Linked DNA regions of Homo sapiens. The protein of the gene in region 1 interacts with the protein of each later gene in a biochemical or structural test. Each region holds a gene or a part of one and is shown on either strand. Other genes may lie near its edges.

Region 1 (3,816 bases):
GCACTCATGCAGACGTATGCACAGTGCACGTACCTGCACACACATGTACACACACACACACACACAGGCACTCATGCACAGATGCACGCATACACAGTGCACGTACCTGCACACACGTGTACATGCACACACAGTCCCGTAAATGCACGCTTACATCCGTAATACTGATGAAGTCTTTCAAACAACCAACCACTCTACAGCACGTTTTTAGACTCTCAGCACCAATTTATACGTAAGCTTAACCGCCTTGTCCTCCAATCATCCATTAAAGGATGGTAAGTTAAGCATTGTAAATGTTATTATTCAAAGTTGGTTTGATCTCCCAGCTCGGGGGATGCTGTGTTACCTGTGCGCCCCGGGAGTAGGAGCGGAATATGGTACAAAATCTTCCCTGGCCTGAAGTATCCCTGGAAAAGATGTTGGAGACCATTAAGAAGAAACCAGTGCTTCTTCCTGACAACAGGTTCTGGAACTTCAGAGCCACAGCAAGTGCACCACACACCCGCCAGTCAGCAGCCACCACGCCGCCAGCGTGAGACCCCAACAAAACTTTCCAATGTCCCTGAAGGGATCCGGGTGTTGGGATGTCCTCCCAGGCTCATGCTCTTCTCTGTCATTTAAAAAGTCAAACTAGAAAAAATAGTGACGGTTTTAACATAATTCTCAGATATTTAAATACATTCAATGTAGGCTTTAAAAAACTTGTTGAATCTGAAGATAAATCTATGCAGTAAGGAGTGTGGGTCTACACCAGGGGAGAGAGGCCGGTGGGATCCCTGCTCTTCCAGTTCAACTGTAAGAGCTCACATGGAGTCAGCCCTTCCAGTGTGCCCCTAAGAGGGGAGGGATACAGGGAACTGCCTGGCGTGAGCTGCAGGCAGGGCTTGAGTTCTCAGATGACGGCACACGCAGCAGGTACTGGGACCCACAAAGACCAGAACGGAGCTCCAAGAAACAAATGAAAGGCCGGGCTTGGCGGCTCACACCGATAATCCCAGCGCTTTGGGAGACCGAGGCAGGCGGATCACCCGAGGTCAGGAGTTGGAGACCAGCCTGGCCAACATAGTGAAACCCCGTCTCTACTAAAAATACAAAAATTAGCTGGACATGGTGGTGTGCTCCTGTAGTCCCAGCTACTCGGAAGGCTGAGGCAGGAGAATTGTTTGAGCCCGGCAGGCGGAGGTTGCAGTGAGCTGATATCGTGCCACTGCACTCCAGCCTGGGAGACAGAGTGAGACTCTGTCTCAGAAAAAAAAAAAAAAAAAAAAAGGAAGAAACAAATGAGGGTGGAAAGGGTGCTCCCCAGGGATCAGTTCCCAGAGGAGGCGGCCCTGGGACAGCCAGCGCTGTTTCCCGGAGTCTGCACATGCAACGAACACACCTACATCAATGGGAGATTCCCCAGTGGGCCAGGGGCTGGCCCCGCACACGAGACACAACCTCACGGATGAGCGGTGGGACGCGGCATGGTTTTGCTGTTTGTGTCACATGCACCTGTGGTCGGTGACCACCCTCAGCACGAGAGAGAAGGGCCTGGGGCTCCAGAGGGGACCAGCGACACTGGCCATTGCCAAAGCCTAGGAGTGAGTGCCTCATTTCCTGAGAAGCAAATTGATCTAGAATTCAAGCCTCAGCAGGACCTCAGGTGCTCAGGCTTTGCACACAGCGGGAGCTGCCCAAAAGCTATGGTCGAGGAGGCAGCGGGCCAGGTCAATCTGCCAGCTTCGCAGGGAGGCCGAAGGGCCAGCACGTGCTGTCAGAGTGCCCCATCGTGAAGTGGGAGCACTCCCTCCTCAGCTGGGACAACGTGCCGGCCTCCTGGGCCGCTGCCACCCTGAAGGAGCAGAGCAGAGCCCAACCCCAGCCCCAGTGGGTGTGGGGAGGGAGGTGAGGGCAGGTGGGGGCAGGCAGAAGACCCAGTTGTGGGCACCAGGAAGGACCACACTCTGGGGTCCACACTCCGGGGTCCACGGTGGGAGTGTGACCTTGCTCAGACGACAGTGTGGACAGAGCTGGCACCGGCACCACAGGAGAGCAGCCTCAGGGTCCTGCTGGGGCCTGGGGGGATTCTGAGCTTGGCAGAAGCCCCCTGGGATCTCACTCCTGAGGTGAGAGGGAGAAAAGTGTGAGGGTGACTGTTCGGCCCACTGGGCAGCTGGGGTCAGGGAGGCGTTCGCTAAGGTGAGCAGCCAGACCCGGGGTGGAGCTGGGAGAGGGCACGCGCCAGCCCTGATGCAAGCAGATCTTTAGGAAGGCACTGAGCTCAGGGGCAGGCGTGGGGCCGAGTGCGGCCTTTGGGTGGCCTTGGCCCCTCAGGAAGGAGTGGTCTCGGGGAGGGAGGGAGAGACTTGAGAACAAGGTCCTGGACCTGCAGGGCTCAGGGCCAGGAGGAGGCAGCAAAGGCCCAGCTGGCGGAGGGTGGGGAGCAGGACAGGGGCTGACGGCAACCCCAACGCCAGCCCAGCGAGGGCATGGCCCCGGGGGAGTGGGGACCTGAGAGCAGACTGGGCGGGAGGCCTGAAGCTGTGCAGCAGGAAGGGTCGGGGCGCTTGGGGACACTGTGGAGACAGGCTCCCCAGGACTGGCCACTACTAGACGGGGCAGGCGTAGGAAGGGGACAGGTAAGAGAAGGGGGTCCCAGCTGCTGGAGGCACACGTGGCTCGGGGGTGGCCCAGCAGGCAGGAAGGGCCAGGAGGCTCAGGCGAGGGTCACCCAGGAGTGGCAGCAGTGCAGGAGGGATGCCCAAGAGGGAGGCAGCCCCAGGATGAGGCACCGCAGGAGCCCCCCATCCCCACCGCCCCAGAGCTGGAACCGCAGGAGCTCCCCCCATCCCAAGCCAAGAGCGGGTGGAGGGAGAGGTGTTCCAAGCTGGCCCCAAGGTGGGGGTGCTGGGGGAGGGAGAGGTGCCCCGGGCTTGCCCCAAGGTGAGGAGCTGGGGTTCTCACAGCTGAGAGAGCAGAGCCAGCAGCCCCAGGCTGGCCAGCAAGTCCTCACCTCCCCACGTCTGGGTCCTCCACCCGCAGGCCCGACCACAGCCCCGCTGGCACCAGGACGCTCCGAGCTCCCTGCCGGGTGCTCAGTGGCATCACTGAGCCAGGCGTGGGGGACCCAGGAGCCCCGGGCTGCCTCAACCACGCTGCATCGGTCCCCTCTTGGCATCTTCCCACAGACACCAGGCCACAGGTTCTGATCCCAAAAGCCGATTCCCAGCCACAGCGCTATGTCCGTTCTGGGGTCCCCTACTCTGGATGACGGGGGCCCAGACAACCGGACCACCACCTCCTTCAGAGAAGCCCTGGTGCAGCTGGGGCTGGGGGTGCTCCCCGGGGCGCTGTGCCGACGGTGGTGGTGGGAGGGTGTTCCCGGGGGCGCTGTGCCAACGGTGGTGGGGGAAGGGTGTTCCCGGGGGTGCTGTGCCGACGGTGGTGGGGGGAGGGTGCTCCCCGGGGTGCTGTGCCGATGTTGGTGGGGGGAGGGTGCTCCCTGGGGTGCTGTGCCGATGGTGGTGGTGGGAGGGTGTTCCCCGGGGGCGCTGTGCCGACGGTGGTGGGGGAAGGGTGCTCCCTGGGGTGCTGGGCAGATGGTGGTGGGGGGAGCTTGCTCCCTGGGGTGCTGGGCCGATGGTGGTGGGGGGAGGGTGCTCCCCGGGGTGCTGTGCTGATGGTGGTGGGGCTGGTGGTGCTCCCCGGGGTGCTGTGCCGACGGTGGTGGTGGGAGGGTGTTCCCGGGGGCGCTGTGCCGATGGTGGTGGGGGATGGGTGCTCCCCGGGGCACTGTGCTGACAGGGGGTGCTATGCCAGCCAGGGGGGTTACTC
Region 2 (3,816 bases), on another chromosome or scaffold:
GGCCTATTCCAGTGATGTTATAGAATAAGATTACTCAGCAGTTGGGGCAGAGATTTCCACCTTGCAAGGAAAGAGTTTCTTAACCATTTTATATGTGTAGTCTTTTCTTTATTTTTCTTTTTTTTTTCCTTTTTTGAGACGGAGTTTTGCTCTTGTTGCCCAGGCTGGAGTGCAATGGCACGATCTCGGCTCACTGCAATCTCTGCCTCCCAGGTTTAAGCAATTCTCCTGCCTCAGCCTCCCGAGTAGCTGGGATTACAGGCACCCACCATGCCCGGCTAATTTTTAGTAGAGATGGGGTTTCTCTGTGTTGGTCAGGCTGGTCTTGAACTCCTGACCTCAGGTGATCCGCCCGCCTTAGCCTCCCAAAGTGCTGGGATTATAGGCTATGAGCCACCACGCCCAGCCATGTGTATTATTTTCTTAGGACAGAAATATACATGGATATATGCATTTAAAAGTCATCAGCATCATTCTTGTAGAGGAGCCTGAAAAAACCTTTTTTTTTGTTTTGTTTTGTTTTGTTTTGTGACAGTCTTGCTCTGTCGCCCAGACTACACTGCAGTGACATGATCAAGGCTTACTGCAGCCTTGACCTCCTGAGCTTAACTGACCCTCCCACCTCAGCCCCCCAACTCGCAGGGACCACAGAAAATTCTTTATTCGGAAAATTTTAAGCATTTTTACAATGTAGGAAGAACAGTATAATGAATCCCCATTACCTAAATTCAGCTTTAGTAGTTACCAACATTATGTCAATTCCAAAGGAATTTTTAATAAAAAATTTTTAAGGGACACATAATTGCCTCCCTTAATTTACAGATAGATGATTTGTTTTTCAGAAGAAATATATCAGCCTTATTGTACTTAACTTTAGTCCTCACAACCTATTAATTTCATCTGATCCCCAAAAGAGAAGTAAATAATTACATGACACGAGGGAGCAGAGATGACATGATATCTTCTGCCTCATTTAGATTTTCCTGATGGCCTCCTAGAGCACTAGACCCTTGCTATCTTACCTGAAATAGTTCAACAGCCTCGTTACCATATCCCAACCACCCACTCCTTACCACCTGCCTTACTACCATTATACTGATCTTTAATAATGACTTGAGGAGAGGAGAATCTCATTACATTTATCCTCTGTTTAAAACTTCCTTGGGGCCAGGCCTGATGGTTCACACCTGTAATCCCACACTTTGGGAGACTGACAGGGGGATCATGTGAGACCAGGAGTTTGTGACCAGCCTGGGGAACATAGCAAGACATCATCTCTACAGAAAAGTTTAAAAAATTAACCAGACTTGATAGTACATCCCTGTAGTCCTAGCTACTCAAGAGGCTGAGGCAGGAGGATCACTTGAGCCTAGGAGTTCAAGGCTGTAGTGAGGTATGATAGTAGCTATGTAGTAATGCCACTGTACTCCAGCTTGGGCAGCAGAGCAAGACTCTGTCTCTTAAACAAACAAAAAAACCTTCCTTTGTTCTTCCTTCCCTACCTATGAAATAAAACCCCAAATCATAGATTTTCATTCATAATCTGGTTGCAGCCTATCTTTCTAGCCTTCTCTTCCACTGTCTGTTTCTTCTCTACCATTTTAAGCTTCCTGGTATTCCTAGAATACGTAACCTATTTTAGGGCTTGTACTTACTTTACAGGATCCCATTTAGATACCAACTTGTGGATGAGGCCATTTTAACTACCCTAGAAAAAAGTAGTTTCTAAGTTTTTTTTTATTTTGTGTGTGTTTGTGTATGTGTGTGATGCCACTTAACTGAGTTATATTTAGTTAGCAGTGTAGGTTTACTGCCCTCCTCACTCTCAATTAGACAGTGATCTCTTCGAGAGCAGGAATTATATCTTATTCTTGTCTCTTAAATACTTCCTTAGTGCCTGCACGTAGTAGGCATCCAATAATGGTTTGTTGAATGAATGTATTCACACTTCTAGAATTTTATAACCTAATTTTAAAACAGGTTCTCTCCAGACAGGAAGAGTTAATCAAAGTTTGGTTTTGTATATTTTTCTCTCCCCTCCTTGAGGACTTTTGTTAAAATTTCTAAAGAGAGTCTAGTTCTATAGTTTTTTTCCTTAGGGGAAAATACACTTTGGTAAACTAGTATAGCATATCCATCTTCAATAATCCTATAGTTAAGGTAAGTGAAATCTACTTTCAGTATAATTTTTTTTTTGTTGAACAATATTGTTTTATTTTGTGAGTTAGAATAGATTTGTGCTATACAGCTTATAGTAGCCTTGACTAATTTTTGATATATTTCAGCTCATGGAATGCTGTGTAAATGCCCTGGTGACATCATTTAAAGAGACTATCTTAGCTGAGTGCCAAGGCATGATCAAGAGAAATGAAACTGAAAGTAGGTAAAACATCACATAAAGTTATCATAATCTTCTAAGAGGGTATCTTTGAAACAAATCACTTACTAAGTTGCTCTTAGTTAATTCTTTTCCACATAGGTATATGTGGAACTGTTAGAGTGAACTATACTTAAGGAAATAGATAAAATATTTAACACAGAGGCACTGCTAAGAGTATATAAACTTAAATTTTAAGCATTTTCCCTCTTAGCTATCAACATCTGTGTATGTGTATGGTGAATTTCTACTTTTTTCTCAAAAGCAAGACACTGCTTTTAAAGGCCAGTTTAAACTGGAAACATATGTTATAGATTAGAACCAGGTATTTGACTTTTGTGTGGAACCTTGTGATGAATCTTTTTAGAATGTAATAAAACACTCCCTGTTAATAGTCATCTCTGTCCCCCAAAATACTTTATAAGATTTCTAAAGGATTTTTTTATTACTTCAATGTTTTCTTAAAAAGATGTGTTTTGAGAGGTAGCAAGTATATAACAAACTAAAAAAAAAAATTGTACATATACCTACTACCCCAGTAAAACTGCTTTTAACATTTTTTTGCTTTTGTTTTTTAAATAACGTACTTCTACTGAGTTTCCAGGTTTTATTATATCTAACTGCAAGGTCCTGTTTAATCTCTAGTTGCATTTAAAGTGCATATTTCAATTCACTTAAGTTCATACACTTTTTAGGAGTAATTCAGTAGTAAAAAGCAAGCTGCTTTATTGGCGTAAACAAAATACTTGTATTCTGTGTGCCAGTCTAATTAGAGTTATGTCTGATCTATGTTGCACTCTTTTCAAAAGGATTTATTTAGTGGTAATCAGTACCGTGAGGTAGGGTTTTTGTGAAGGTCAATAAAATGGCATAACATGAAAAAGTGCTTTGTAAATTGAAAAATTATTTATGAATACAGTTTTATATTCTAATCTCTAATATAGTTGCTTTCGTAATTATTACTCATGTTTTTTACCTTTTGATGATATGGCTGTATATGTAGTATTACAACTACCTTATGAAATAAACTAATCTTGTGTGTAAATAAATATTCCTTTGCACTGAAAACCAAATGACTCACCTTTTCTTTTGAGACTGGGTCTCGCTGTGTTGCCCAACCTGGAATTCGATGGCACGATCACAATTCACTGTAGCCTTGACCTCCTGGGCTCAAGCGATCCTCCCACCTCCCAGCCCACTGAGTAGCTGGGACTACAGCCGTGTACCACCATGCCTGGCTAATTTTTGTATTTTTTGTAGAGGCAGAGCCCCACCTTGTTGCCCAGGCTGATCTCCACTGCTTCTGGCCAAATGACTGACCTTTTAAAGAAAGGAGTTGGGTTTTGCAGTATTTGATCACTTTTTTTATTTTTATTTTTTGAGACCGTCTTGCCCTGTCACCCAGGCTGAGTGCAATGGTGCAATCACGGCTCACTGCA

The links.
Region 2: the proteins of RAB40B (region 1) and CUL5 form a complex in vitro, tested with the Homo sapiens proteins (one study listed by BioGRID).

What each region holds. Positions count from the first base shown.
Region 1 is NC_000017.11:82,660,641-82,664,456, forward strand, and holds part of RAB40B (ras-related protein Rab-40B), read right to left. Parts: intron 2,104-3,816; coding exon of another isoform or gene 1,794-2,103; exon of another isoform or gene 431-1,793; coding exon of another isoform or gene 408-430; coding exon 347-407; intron 1-346. UniProt on the Homo sapiens protein: RAB40B small GTPase acts as substrate-recognition components of the ECS(RAB40B) E3 ubiquitin ligase complex which mediates the ubiquitination of target proteins.
Region 2 is NC_000011.10:108,067,811-108,071,626, forward strand, and holds part of CUL5 (cullin-5), read left to right. Parts: intron 1-2,285; coding exon 2,286-2,379; intron 2,380-3,816. UniProt on the Homo sapiens protein: Core component of multiple cullin-5-RING E3 ubiquitin-protein ligase complexes (ECS complexes, also named CRL5 complexes), which mediate the ubiquitination and subsequent proteasomal degradation of target proteins.